4 linked regions of the Homo sapiens genome follow. The protein of the gene in region 2 purifies or fractionates together with the protein of the main gene of each other region. This does not show direct contact. Each region holds a gene or a part of one and is shown on either strand. Other genes may lie near its edges.

Region 1 (3,500 bases), on a different chromosome or scaffold from region 2:
TCTAGACCCCAGCCCCATCTCCTAACTACTGCCCCCATCTCCTTCTCCTCCACCCACTGCAAGGTCCAGCAGCCCTCCACGCTGCCATGTCCATGCCCACCAACTAACATTTTGAGTCCATGCCACCTCAGCTCCTTTCTGGGGGTGGGTAACTGTGGAAGGAAGGAGACTCTCTGGGTACCTCCACGATGAATTCATTGCTGGAGTAACGGCCATTCATTTCCGAGCAGGAAAGCCGGAACTTCCTGGTGTAGAGGGCAGCTCCGTGTCGCAGCCGATAACGAGCCTGCCTCAGGATCTCTTCATACACAGTGATGCTCTCCACCCCTGGAGATGAGGAAGCACCTCAGGGCAGGGGCCAGTGGAGGCAGGACCTGGGCAGGACCCTCTCTCCTGGACTCCCACCAGCTGACGCCACACAAGCTGTAGAGCAGGTCAGCCCCATCTCCGCAGAAGTGCGACCTGAGGTCGAAGGGAGGGATGCTCCCCTCCATCCCTGCCCACTCTGACTAACTAGGATGGAGAGATCAAGGCTCCATTTCCTGCTCTGTAGGTTCTGAGGAGGAATGGAAAGAAGGAGATAAAGACATCCTGAAAGACAGAAAGGGAGATGGCAAGCAGGAGGGAATATGAGAAAGAGGAAAATACAGAAGTCCTCAGTGAGCCCTGGAAAGGAGTGGAAATAGAAGGGAACTGATTATCTCCATCTTCTCCATTCTCCCTCCTGGCTTCCTTTGGAAACTACCAAATCATCACTCCCACTATTCACTAAGAGATGAGTACTTCTTGTAAAGCTCTGGTGTGCACGTGAGATGAGTGAGCTGAACAACAGAGATGACCGGTAACAAACAGACAGCTAGAGGGTTAGAAAGCTGGGCAGAGATGAGCCGAAGGAGGAGAGGAAGGTGAGAAGCCTGAATGGAAACAGGAGTGGGACCAGAAGTGGAGGTGAGCCAGGCTATGGAGAGGAGCAGGAAGACAGAAGCATTCGGAGCCTAAACCCAGCACACCTTCCCTAGGGACAATCAAAGCCAGAGGATCTTCCAGGCTAGGAAAATGCAAAACGGCACTTGTCCACATCCCTGGACCTGGAAGGAGGACCCTCTGGGCTTCCTAGGCCCTTACTTTTTGGGAGGGGCACACACACACAGAGGACAGGCCCTCAGGCCCCACTGACCAGCAATAGTGAGGTAGGCAGATGTGTTGGTGAGCTCCAGCCCCCGCTGCTGCAGAGAGGTTGTGTCCAGGAGCAGGCTTTCCCGCTCGGGATCCAGGTCATCCCCCACCAGAGAAATTTCACAGCCATCCAGGTTGTGCACAATCTCATCCGACATGCGTGTGTCTGTCACTGGGTTGGGGATAGTAGGGTCTGGGTCAGAGCCAAAGGGCCCACGGAGGTTCTGAGACCCAACCATGCCCTCATCACCACTCTCCCTCCCTTTCCAGGGCCAGGGAGAGGGAAGTCAGCATCATTTTCAAGAATATCATTATGCAACAATTCATTTCCACCCACGTGTTTTCCACTTGCTCTCCTTCTTAAAGGTAAGTTGTTCAGTCAAACAAACACAGGATGGAGTCGCTTTCTGCTTCCAGCCCCAGGAGTTCTCCCACACTCTGACTCCAGACACTGGCTGGTTCTCTGGATGGTGTTACTCCCCGAAGTCGTCCTTACCTGTGCCCTGCCAACTCTCATCCTTTTTGGCCTCCACCTGGTGAGAAATGGAGCAGGTGATTTGAAGATCAGGGAACAAAGGGACGCCGTTGGTTCCCTCAAAGTCCACAGCTGGGCGGGCAAAATGAGCAGTGCCACTCAGCAGGATCTGGGGGGCGTCAGGCTGAAGGACGACCACGTAGCCCTCCACTTCAGGGATGGAGACGCAGGACTCTTCGCTGAAGCACCTATGTAAGAAAGCAGGAGAAGCAGCATGTGACCCCAACACTTCCTCCCCGAAAACCCACATTCTGTTTCACTCCCCGCCCCAGCTACCTCTATCATAGAGCATCTCATGTCAGGAAGGGGCAGGGGAAGAAAGGGGGTCATGCCTCTGCATCCCAACCCCCACAGCAGTTGAAGGGGGACATATCCTTTCCTGGTAGGATGTCACCAAGGAAAATGTCGAGGACAGAAGGTCAGGTAATCCCAACCTGTGGGTGTGATCACACCATCAATGCCCTACCCCAGGATTATGGAGTACCTATAGATGCTATTTTAATGAAAAACAAAGCAAACTGAACTGACAAACAGGTATATATACACACACAGTTCTTTATCCAGCAGTTTAAAAGTACATGGACTCAGTATACTATCCGGCACATATGCGCCCAAAATTATTCAACAATAAAAGTAGAATGTGGACATCTATCAAAGGATGTCCTCCTCTTTGGTGTGTCTTTCATTCCCTTCAATATCGGGGAAACACACTTTGGTAGGTGAGATCATCTGACCACCTTGGACCTAGATCCACCGTCTCATGAAGCTTGAGGATCCAGGCATCAGGACAAGCTATCCTTAGAGGACTCTGTTGAGCCAGACCAACCAACAGCACAGCTGCTCAGCAGTGATGCTCCCAGGATCACATTTAGCCCCACCTTTACCAGTAATAACAACACCTCACAATCAATAGCCCTTGCCAGTTTATGAAGCATTTTCCCACATTTCTTTCTTTCTTTCTTTCTTTCTTTCTTTCTTTCTTTCTTTCTTTCTTTCTTTCTTTTTGATGGAGTTTCACTCTTGTTGCCCAGGCTAGGGTGCAATGGTGCGATCTTGGCTCACTGCAACCTCTGCCTCCTGGGTTCAAGCGATTCCTCTGTCTCAGCCTCCCAAGTAGCTGGGATTATAGGGCGCATGCCACCACACCCGGCTAATTTTTGTATTTTTAGTAGAGATGAGATTTCTTCATATTGGCCAGGCTGGTCTTGAACTCCTGACTTCAGGTGATCTGTCCGTCTCGGCCTCCCAAAGTGCTGGGATTACAGGCGTGAGCCACCGCACCTGGCCCATATTATTTCATTATATTATAACCTCATTTCTATGCTGTAAAATGCCTAAAGCTCAGGCTGGGCATGATGGCTCATGCCTGTAAATCCTGGCACTTTGGGAGGCTGAGGCGGGAGGATCCCTTGAGCTTAGGAGTTCGAGATCAGCCTGGGCAACATAGTGAAACCCCGTCTCTACAAAAAATACAAAAATTATCCAGGTGTGGTGGTAGATGCTTGTAGTCCCAGCTACTCAGGAGGCTGAGGTGGAAGGAACACTTGAGCCCAGGAGGCAGAGGTTGCAGTGAGCTGATGAGATCAGGCCACTGCACTCCAGCCTGGGCGACAGAGTGAGACCCTATCTCAAAAAAAAAAAGAAGAAAAGAAAAGAAAGAAAAAGAAAAAGAAACAATCAAGGCTTAAACCAGAGTCTAGGCTTAAATCATTCTTCTCCTTCCAGGTCCACTGATTTTTTTTTTTTTTTTTTTTTTTTTTTTTGGCAGAGTCTCTCTCTGTTGCCCAGG
Region 2 (3,500 bases):
AAGATTATATGCTATCCCTTGAAACTAAGATTTATTTTCTTCTTCTTTTTGGTGTAATGTAAGATACTATAGGTAGCATTATAGACTTTATTCAATTTTTACCAGGTATTTATATATGTATATGAGGAAGGGTTTGGTTGCCCAAATGTTGCTCTATTGCAAATTCCTTGAGAGCAGAGGTCATGATATATCTTGAGGTTTTTTTAGTGGCTAAAATACAGAGACACTTTAATCAATAATCATGATATCAATGCTTAATGTGACAGGCTTATTCAGAGATCTCACACAACAGAGAAATTCCCTGAGAATATTACCGCATTTAATGTAAATTTAACATTTTAGAGACCATTATTAGCAGGTATATTTGCTCGATTGCTGTAAAATTGTGATTTTCTTCATCTCTAACATGATCACACATTTTTCACATTAATCTGAAACTCTAGTAGGAGACTTTGTTAATACAGATTGTGCTTTTATTTCTATTCTAATCATATCCTGAAAGTAGTTGTATGTTATGTATTCACTTATGAGAGTTTGTTGAACTTTCCTTTGAATATTGCCTTTAATCTTCATGAGACCTCTGTTATATAGCCAAAATATTCCTGAATTCTAGAAACAAAATGCCTCTCTTTTGTAATATTCTCAAAATGGCACTTTTGAAGATCTTTGCTTGTGACCCAGTCTTTATAGAATTTGGTTTTTCTTATGGATTATTTGGTGCTGCACTCTAAGAAATATTGTGCCTTTATGCCAAAGAGACCACAGATTATGATAAAAGAATATTCAACAGATGCTTTTATCTGAATTCCACTATTTATATTTTTCTCCTGGAAGGACACAATGATGTTTTAGTAAAATGGGCATTTCTGAATTTATCATGTCATTTAAAAAGTGAGCTATGTTTGGGAATCATTTGAGAGAAAAATTGTTTAGTATATAATTCAACATTCTCCATTTTTGGTCTTCATACTCACACATATTATATTTATATATAAGTTATGCCTGGGCAATGAATGCAGGAAAAACTGAGATTTGACTTGGAAGAGAGAGTGTCTCATACACATCATCCACCCCCTGTCCCCCTTCTGTTTATTTACATGAAGTTTTATTTTAAAACAAAGTCTCACTTCCCATTTGGGTAATCTCATTTGCTATTTTCTTTGGGTAATAGAAACATTTTTTCTGCTTAAGCTTGAATATTGACTGACTAAAGTAAATCTGAATTTCTAACTTTTAAAACTATTCAAAAGATATAAAAGAAAAAGCTCCAATGTGATTCATAAAATAGAGAAAAAGGTGAAGTGTTCAATTCACATGCTGCTGCAAAATTTGTTGAAACCTATTTATTTTAGAGTTCATTATAATATCTTTTCAATATTTCTAGGAAAAAAAACATGTCATTCTCTAGGACAGGGTCACAGAGTGAGTGGACTTTCTCTGTAAAGGACAAGAGAGTAAATATTTTCAATTTTTCAAGCTAGCTGTATGGTCTCAACTCTGCTATTATAGGTTGAAATCAGCCATAGGCAATACTTCATGAATGGGTAATACTTCATGAATGGGCATTTTTAACTTATAGATAAAGAAAACTTTATCTATAAGAAAGGCTTGCAGCCAGACGCAGTGGCTCACACCTGTAATCCTAACACTTTGGGAGGCCGAGGCGGGCGGATCACAAGATCAGGAGTTCAAGACCAGCCTGGCCAACATGGTGAAACCCCATCTCTACTAAAAATATGAAAATTAGTTGGGCATGATGGCGCGCTCCTGTAATCCCAGCTACTCAGGAGGCTGAGGCTGGAGAATCACTTGAACCCAGGAGGCGGAGGTTGCAGTGAGCCAAGATTGTGCCACTGCACTCCAGCCTGGGCCACAGAGTGAGACTCCATCTTGAAAAAAATAAAAAAAGAAAGGCTTGCAGTTTGGGTTGACACACATGGTCTTCAGGATTTTCCAACTTCTCTTCTAGGAGGTAGGCATCTAATGAACAACATGGGATAAACAGAAAGCAGAAAGGTAAATTGTGTAGGAAAGGAGTCCTGGGATTTATTTCCATCTCCTCATTAAGGGTAGAACCTTGGATACCTCTCCGCATTTTCTTGCCAAGCAAAACATTATCTTTTTAAGAATTCTATCTTTTAAGAATTCTATCATATTCATAAAGATTATAATTTACAGAAAACCCTTTAGTCTTCTTTTATGGTCACAATAGAGGCATACTCAAACAGAGGATTATTTTTCAATGCCATTTTCATCTTTGTTATAAATTTATTAAAAGAGAAATATGAAATAGTGTTAATGATCAATATACTTTTGGGACCCCTTCTATAGAATGGGTACAGTATTGATAAAGATGGTAATCAACAGAGAGTAAGAAATCTAGACTTACAACAGTATGTTTCTCCGCACCCCCATGTTTCTGGTTAAGAGTGAATAAGAACCAATTCTTTGAAAAATCCTAAAATCAGTCTATTCTAATTACAGGTCAAACGCAGAACTTTAAAGACGCCTTTTCAGGAAGAGATTCAAGTATTACGCGGTTGCCACTGGCTTTTTATTATGGAATGTATGCATATGCTGGCTGGTAAGTTGATAGCTCCAGATCTGGTGGTTTGCGTAGTTCATTAATCCCATTATGCACTCAGATTAAGTGCCAAGCAAGGTGCCAGGCAAATGTGAATAGCCATAATCCAGTGTGATAGGCTTTACTTGAAATGAGAAATAAGGTATTATCCCCTCCACCAGGCCAATTACTTTGCACATGACAACTAAACATAACAGGTTTCCAGTCAAGGTGACTGCTAGATTTAGCCTGATGTCATAAAAAACAAACAAATGCTGGGTCTTAAGATCCAATAAAAATTACTTATAAGTATGTACCAGTAAGGACATAATAGTGCCGTAAGGTACTAAAGAATAATACTTCGCTTGTCAAAAGGCCTTTCAGCTAAAGCTCCAAGGGTGTTTACAAATAGTGATTAATTGATTTTTTTTTCCAGCTTCTCGTGAGAGAAGTAACTCAGATGTAGAAATAAGTATGACATTCCCAGAAGGTAAATGGTAATCTAAAGGCAGAGAAAGAGAAACCAAGATAATGCAGTCAACTCTTCTAGACAGTCTATTACATTTAAAAGGACCTTACATGTTCCTTAAAATGTCCCCAACATCTGAAAATTTAAAAAAGTGAAGATGATTAAAATCATGATGCCACAGATATATTTCCTTTGATGTATGTCCACCTGTGATACCTACCTTTCTAGTTAAGGCATTAAAACTTTGTATTTGTACCTTATTTGTTCAGATACTTGAAAAACAGTAATCATGTAATCATGGATAAGAGTGGGACTTTCTCTTCAGTAAATTTTATTGACCTTGTAAGATTTAGTTGAGATGATGGTTGCAAGAAAGCCTACAAGGTATTATTTAATTATCAAAATCATTGTAGTAAGATTAAATTTCATTGTTTTGGGATAAATCATGGCAATGTTTATTTTTTAATT
Region 3 (3,500 bases), on a different chromosome or scaffold from region 2:
ACATGCTTGTTCCTCTTAACATATAGGCAGAAAAAACCACGTATAGAGAAACTAACTGTCTTACTCAAAGTCCTATAAAACTGAAACATGACTGAGTTAAGGATACTGTCCCATTAATGCTCATTTTTAAATATACCCATCTCTTGATTTATGTAACATTTAGTTTCCCAAAAAGTAAAAGATTTTAAAAATTGTAAGTCGAAATATTCTCATAAGAAATAAAAAACCAGAAGCGAATTTTTTAAAAGTCATGCCCCTTTTTGTCATATCACATTAATATAAACAGTTAATAAAAACATGCTTAGAAATGCAGTTTATGTGTAGGAAGCAACTTAATATAGTGGAATGAGCTAGCCTAGATGAGAAACCTCATTCTAAAATCAACTCAGTCATGGCTTGGTGTGAGCTTGGGCAAGGCCCAAAGGCCTTACTCCTATGAAAGATGACAAAAGTTCTCTGGAAAGAAGGCCTCTGACTTCTGCTGTGTTCTCAGTTAACAGAGCAGTACAAAACAGGAGAGTAGTTCAGGGGGTTCTCTTACCTGGGGCCAGCAGTCGCCTCCTCAGTGTATCCTCACCCTCTTGCCCTGCACTGGAATGACCAGGACTCTGGGCCTCCTGGGAGTCTGTAGTAGGTGGTTCCTGAGATGCTCCAGTTCCGTCACTCGCTTCCTTAGGGAGGGCCACAGAGCTGCTCCCTAAGTGTGCATCTGCTCTTCCTACCTTGTCACTTGGAGAATGGCTGGGATCTGGATCCAAGGGTTCTTTACCCAGATTTTCTGAAGGGAGGTGATGCCCTTTTCCGCCATCCAGAAAACTCTGCTTGTTCTCATCTTCTGTTTTATCCTTTGGATGTTTCCCCACATTTGCTTCATCTGGACTTTCTGATTTATCACCTGTATCTGCACTTTCTGGACCTTCTGTCTCTACCTCTTGGTGGTCTTTGCTAAGACCACAGGCAGAGTGTAGGATCTCAGCTTCTTCAGCATTACTTGCTATGATTGTGGTCTCCTGCGCCTGAGAATTTACTGATGGATCATTTTCCAAATCCTTTTGAGAGTCTATTGAGATAAAAGTTTATAATTTTTATTGGAAAAAATTCCCCATAAATTTATATTTTAACAAGGTCCCTGTTTAATAATAATATTTACATAGATTTTCATGGTTTACAAGACACTTCCTAAACATTATTTCTCTTGGCTCCCACTAAAGGCAATTAAAACAACAACAAAAAAAATCTTATCATGTTAATAAATATAAAATGACACTAATATAAAACAAATTATATGACAGAACAAACTTTTGGCTATATTAAATATATCCTCTTCCCTAATGAAAGGCAATGCTCATCAATGGTAGCAAAACCTTATGCAAAAGGCTGATAGGGACTTTTATAGTGGATGAGCCAGACTGACAACTGCTGAACCCAGCGACCAATCTTCACATCATGAAAACAGGGAAACCCAAACAGATATCATTTACTTTCTAATACAATGCAGTAAGAAGTACTCTAGACCACTTGGGAAGTATTTTTGCCAAACAACTAAACTTAAATCTGGTAAGTTTCTAGAGCAACCAGTTTCCAAGAAATATAGGGATACAGGAATACATTAAATTATGCCTCAAGAATATAATCAGCAAAACCCAGCACGTGGGAAATTCCAAAAGACTTTGTTTCTTTAATAAAAGTAAGAATGGCCAGATGTGGTGGCTCATGCATGTAATCCCAGCACTTTGGGAGGCCAAGGCAGGTGAATCACCTGAGGTCAGGAGTTCAAGACCAGCCTGGCAACATGGTGAAACCCCGTCTCTACTAAAAATACAAAAATTCACTGGGTGTGGTGGCAGGCGCCTGTAATCTCAGCTATTCTGGAGGCTGAAGCATGAGAATCACTCGAGCCCGGGAGGCGGAGGTTGCAGTGAGCTGAGATCACGCCACTGCACTCCAGCCTGGGTAACATAAAAAAAAAAAAAAGGAGAAGAAGAGGAAGAAGAAAGATACCTTCTAAATATAGCACATCACAGGATATATATAACTCTAAAGATTTGTCTACCATCATTTTTTAAAGAAGCATTGTATTTTTCCATTACTATAAGTCCTTACTATTGGAGTCTCTAAAACATTTATCTTCCTTATATTATAATTAGGGTCTCGCATTATAGTAAAATTCAGTAAATTTGAAAGAATAAGTATAATCAAAACAAATGAACCCACTGAATTAGCTTTTTTACTTCAAAACCTCAGATTTTAGTCATCAGAGATTTTCTCTCTCTGCACACCCCTGGTTTCCTACAGCAGCAACCTCAGTGCCAGACAAATCAGTCTTACCCTCTTGAGGTTCCCTAAGTCCACTGTCGGCCATGTTTGTGTTCTATCTCTTCAGAGTTGGGAGGATACTTTTTTTAGTACTTGGTTTTCCTTGTGAAGATGTCTTGTTTTCTTCTTGTCCCAAGTCCCAACAGACTCATGCTTCCCATGGACCCAGGAAATAAGGCATATATACAGTGACTAAAACAAAATGAAAAAAAATTAAATGACTTTTTATCCATACAAGGGAGAAATGCAAGTATCAGCTTTATTTATTAAATATGTGTAGCTTGAGTACTATTTCCTCTGTGAAACTTTTTTCGTGAAGAAAATTTCCTTTCATGAGAATCATATTCCAAATCCTAGACTACTGAAAAAAGCTCCAGATTATTAATCTTTCATGAATTTCATAATCTAATATATTCCAGCATAGTTGAAAGAGTATAAAAAGTAAGATCAAGTGACCAGAATCTTCAACAGACTAGCTTGAATTAAAATAAAAAATAAATCTAAGAGTAGAAATTTAAGTCATTGCTGAAACAATCACTGCAGATTTCCTGGATGTCTTCAATTTCTGTCCCAGATAATTTTCTCATAGTCTGCCTATCAGGAGCTTTCACTTATATTAAAAAGTAACAATGCACAGGAGGTTCCCACAAACTGAGATGGCTGCTTTGAGGTGTACCACTACACATTTGGACTGACTTTGAAGTGGTTTTCTCGAAGTATTCTTTTGTAAAATATGGAGACAGATATTCCTTTATACAATGCCTTTTTATGCAATGCTCAAAGACAGACAAAGAAAATTATTAAGGTTTACACAAAAGGAATCAAAATCAAAGGCACTTTATAAGCAATAAAAACAGTCATATTTTATAGTTCTTTTTTTTGTCAAAAACAAATTGATCAATAAAGTTACTTAATATTTATTCCCTATGAAAATGAGAATAATGATATCTATGAGGCTTAAATACAAAAATATATAAGAAAAACCTGTGTGAAGTGTTATAGTTTTTTGACAGCCTAGCTGGAAGGCTAGCCAACTGGCCGTCTTTATGTTTTTCTCAGTACTCTTTTGTAAAATTTAAATTTACACATTAAAAACTTTGATCCCCAATGCCTACACGGTGCCTAGTGTATAGTAAGAACTCCATATTTTAACTTAAAAGCTTATGAAAAAATAAATGAATGTA
Region 4 (3,500 bases), on a different chromosome or scaffold from region 2:
CCAGCCCCTGGTAACCACTATTCTACTTCCTGTTTTTGTGAGGTTGACTACACTGTATATCTCATATAAGTAAAGTCATATAGAATTTGCTTTTTTGTGACTGGCTCATTTCATTTACCATAACGTCTTCAAGGTTCTTCCATGTTGTAGCATGCATTAAAATTTCTTTCTTTCTTTCTTTTCTTTTTTTTGGAGATGGAGTCTTGCTCTGTCACCCAGGCTGGAGTGCAGTGGCGCGATCTCAGCTCATTGCAACCTCCACTTCTCGGGTTCCATTGATTCTCCTGCCCCAGTATCCGGAGTAGCTGGGATTACAGGCATCCGCCACCACACCTGGCTAATTTTTGTATATTTAGTAGAGACGGGGTTTCACCATGTTAGCCAGGCTGGTCTTGAACTCCTGACCTCAGAAAATCTGCCCACCTAGGCCTCCCAAAGTGCTGGGATTATAGGCATGAGCCACCATACCTGGCTAAAATTTCTTTCTTTTTAAAGGCTGAATAATTTTCCATTGTATGTATATACCACATTTTGTTTATCCATTCATTCCTGGATAGACCTTTGTGCTGCTTGTACCTTTTAGCTATTGTGAATAATAATGCCATGAACATTGGTGTGCAAATATCTCCTAGAGACCCTGCTTTCAATTCTTTTGGAAATACACCTGGAAGTAGTATTGCTGGATCATATGGTAATTCTAATTTTAATTTTTTGAGGAACTGCCATATTGTTTTCTACAGCAGCTGCACCATCATTCCAATTTCTCTACATCCTTGCCAACACTTGCCATTTTCTGGGTTTTTGATAGCAGCCATCCTAATGGGTGTGAGGTGATAAACAAGTCTCTTAATTTAGAAATAAAACATAGCAGGTAGAGTTAGCAGTTAACAGAAAAGCTTTTGGGGGTAATTAGTTCTCTCCAGCTCCTTACCGTGCATTATGGAGAGAAGATTCAAGCATCAGATGAAGAGTTGGGGTGGAGGATTTGGATAACGTTTTGAGGTCTTTCCCAGCTCTGAGATCTTAATAAAGGCAGTAGACTGTGTTTTCTCCCTGCACCCCATTTACTGCTATAGTTCTACCATGAAACTTATCACACTGAATTGTAATGCATATAGTTATTGCTCTATACTTCGTAGTAGCCTGTGAGTTCTCAGAGGACAGAGGCTCTCATTCCTTTTCCGCTCCCTAGTGTCCAGCCAGTCGCCTGCCTGGTTCTTTGTGAGTACTCTGTGAATATTAAATTGAACTGATGTATCCATAGACACACTACTAGGAAGATAGCAGTCACTGAATTAAACTTTTTCTCAACCCTAAATTGTGTACTCAAACTTGTTATTATTACCAACCCTCACACCAGAAACTCCACCACAGCCAACTCTTCGCCTTTGTATTCAGAATATTTTCTTGTTATTCTCATGTTTGACCACCTCTCTTACAGCCTACCTACTGATGTCATGACAACTGTGTTCAAAGTTGGAGCAAAAACTGACAAAGGCTGGTCATTCCTTTTGGGCAAATACATTTCTATAGGCTCTGAAGCAGAGAAGAACAAAATACTAGAAGCACTTGCCAGCTCAGAGGATGTGCGGAAGCTTTACTGGTATGAAATCACCGAGGAATATGATATACAGAAACCAAAAGAATACAAACACTGTGCTCTTGGTCAGGAGCTCATTTTTGAGGGGATCTCTTTTCCCCACTTCTGTTACAGGCCAGGCCTAAGTTGGACAGTGTGGTGAGGAGACTACAGGTGCTGGGCTTTATCTTTATGGACAAGCAGAAAATCCTTTGCCCAAAAGGGATTACAAGATGTCAGGAGTCACAGCCCCCTCCTACTCCTTGCTCAAAAAGTCTTCCTCCCCTTGGAATGTTGTCTTATACACCACAATTGGTACTCCATAGTTTAGGACCAAGGCATTGCTTTGTGCAAGCTGTCATTTTAAAAATGTAGGCATTTCAGAAAAAAAAAATCACATATTAAACCTTCTAGGTTCTACGTTCATATGAATTTATTTGTCAGACTTTTCCTTTTTAATATGTAGTGATGAAGGCCCAGAAGTAGGAGTGTCATATGGATGAAGGTAGGGCAGTAAGTAGGGCCTCCTGACAGGAAGAACAGGCAGTGGTGGGGTAGAGGAGCTCTACATAGCCAAGAGGAATATAGAGGTATCTGCTGTAGAGAGCACAGGTGTTAGAAGTCGCACTGAGGATAGAAGGAGGCTTCTGGGTCTCATTACTTCTGTTGTATGATTTTGCTCAGATAAATCTTAATAGTGTCCCAGAGATGTCCTCAGTACCTGTCCAGACCCACTTACCAAAAGATACGCTGTAAATAGTCATTTTCTTTAAAGTATTAGCCAGCCTCTGACTTAAGCAAATAGAGAAAAATCACTGTTTTTAAACTATGCTAGTAATACACTAAGAATGCCCATGATAAAGAATTTAAACAGTACCTAAGAATATAGAGTAAAATATGAAAGTATTTCTCATGATCCTTCACTTCCATTCTCGTTTTCTCTGTTAACAACAGTGTCAGTCCTGGTCTTTGTATTCATCTGTGGGAATGGATATTTGTACATATGTACGTACATACATACACACATACCTACATATTTAACTGCATTTTAAAAACCATATTAGGTTTATACCATACCCAGTGTTTTGTGACCATCTTTTTAGTGAATGATCAGTCTATGAGATTTTCCATGTCACTTCATGAAGCCTGCTTTATATATAAAAAAAAACTAAAGTGTTTTATGGGTTCATAATATTCTGTAGTATGGCCCTATCATAATTTATTTAATCCATCACGTTTTGTTGGGCTTTTGTTTTTTTCTCTCCTAAAAATACTGCCACAGTCTTGGAGTGGGGCGTGGTTTCTCACTATAAACAGATAGTATAGCATAGTAGATGAGAACTGCTTTTGTTCAGATGTCGGGCTTTGGTATTTATTACTGTGTGACTGTGGGTCAATTAGATAACCTCAGTTTCTTCAACTATAAAATTGAGTTAGGTAGTATTAATAAATACCTACTTTATAGCATTGTTGTGTCAAGGACTTAGAACATTATTTAGTACATAGTGTCAGTAAATGTTTGCTACGAACATTAATAAGAGTATATTCTGAAATGTATCCTAATTTTCAAATAATTCAAATGACCTAGTTTTTTTTAAGAATAGTAATATAATTAACCTGCCCATTCAAATCAAATAAGGTTTTTACCAGAAAAAAATACCCACCTCCCGAATTGTAATAAATTCTACCAGAACTTATTTCCTAAATGTTTTTACTATTTAAAAACTATTTATTGTCATGTGACAATATAGGTAAATGCCTATTTTATTGGTGAGTTCTTTCTTCATTTAAAAAAAATGACATTTTCAATCTATAGATCAACCGTAGACTAATGCAACAGTTATTTCTCAATTTGCTACACAGCTTTAATTAGGAAACCATACTAATTTTAATTTAAGTTCAGTCATCACTTCTTCATGAA

Evidence for each region. Proteins that work in one complex are often made in the same cells at the same time.
Region 1: the proteins of SLC7A11 (region 2) and CLSTN3 purify together in Homo sapiens (affinity purification with mass spectrometry; one large-scale study listed by BioGRID and IntAct). This does not show direct contact.
Region 3: the proteins of SLC7A11 (region 2) and TOR1AIP2 purify together in Homo sapiens (affinity purification with mass spectrometry; one large-scale study listed by BioGRID and IntAct). This does not show direct contact.
Region 4: the proteins of SLC7A11 (region 2) and LNPEP purify together in Homo sapiens (affinity purification with mass spectrometry; one large-scale study listed by BioGRID and IntAct). This does not show direct contact.

What each region holds. Positions count from the first base shown.
Region 1 is NC_000012.12:7,147,371-7,150,870, reverse strand, and holds part of CLSTN3 (calsyntenin-3 precursor), read right to left. Parts: intron 1,900-3,500; coding exon 1,673-1,899; intron 1,349-1,672; coding exon 1,178-1,348; intron 328-1,177; coding exon 182-327; intron 1-181. UniProt on the Homo sapiens protein: Postsynaptic adhesion molecule that binds to presynaptic neurexins to mediate both excitatory and inhibitory synapse formation.
Region 2 is NC_000004.12:138,218,350-138,221,849, reverse strand, and holds part of SLC7A11 (cystine/glutamate transporter), read left to right. Parts: intron 1-2,484; coding exon 2,485-2,584; intron 2,585-3,500. UniProt on the Homo sapiens protein: Heterodimer with SLC3A2, that functions as an antiporter by mediating the exchange of extracellular anionic L-cystine and intracellular L-glutamate across the cellular plasma membrane.
Region 3 is NC_000001.11:179,850,304-179,853,803, forward strand, and holds part of TOR1AIP2 (torsin-1A-interacting protein 2), read right to left. Parts: intron 2,509-3,500; 5' UTR 2,363-2,508; coding exon 2,329-2,362; intron 1,061-2,328; coding exon 542-1,060; intron 1-541. UniProt on the Homo sapiens protein: Required for endoplasmic reticulum integrity. Regulates the distribution of TOR1A between the endoplasmic reticulum and the nuclear envelope as well as induces TOR1A, TOR1B and TOR3A ATPase activity.
Region 4 is NC_000005.10:97,023,080-97,026,579, forward strand, and holds part of LNPEP (leucyl-cystinyl aminopeptidase), read left to right. Parts: intron 1-1,441; coding exon 1,442-1,603; intron 1,604-3,500. UniProt on the Homo sapiens protein: Release of an N-terminal amino acid, cleaves before cysteine, leucine as well as other amino acids. Degrades peptide hormones such as oxytocin, vasopressin and angiotensin III, and plays a role in maintaining homeostasis during pregnancy.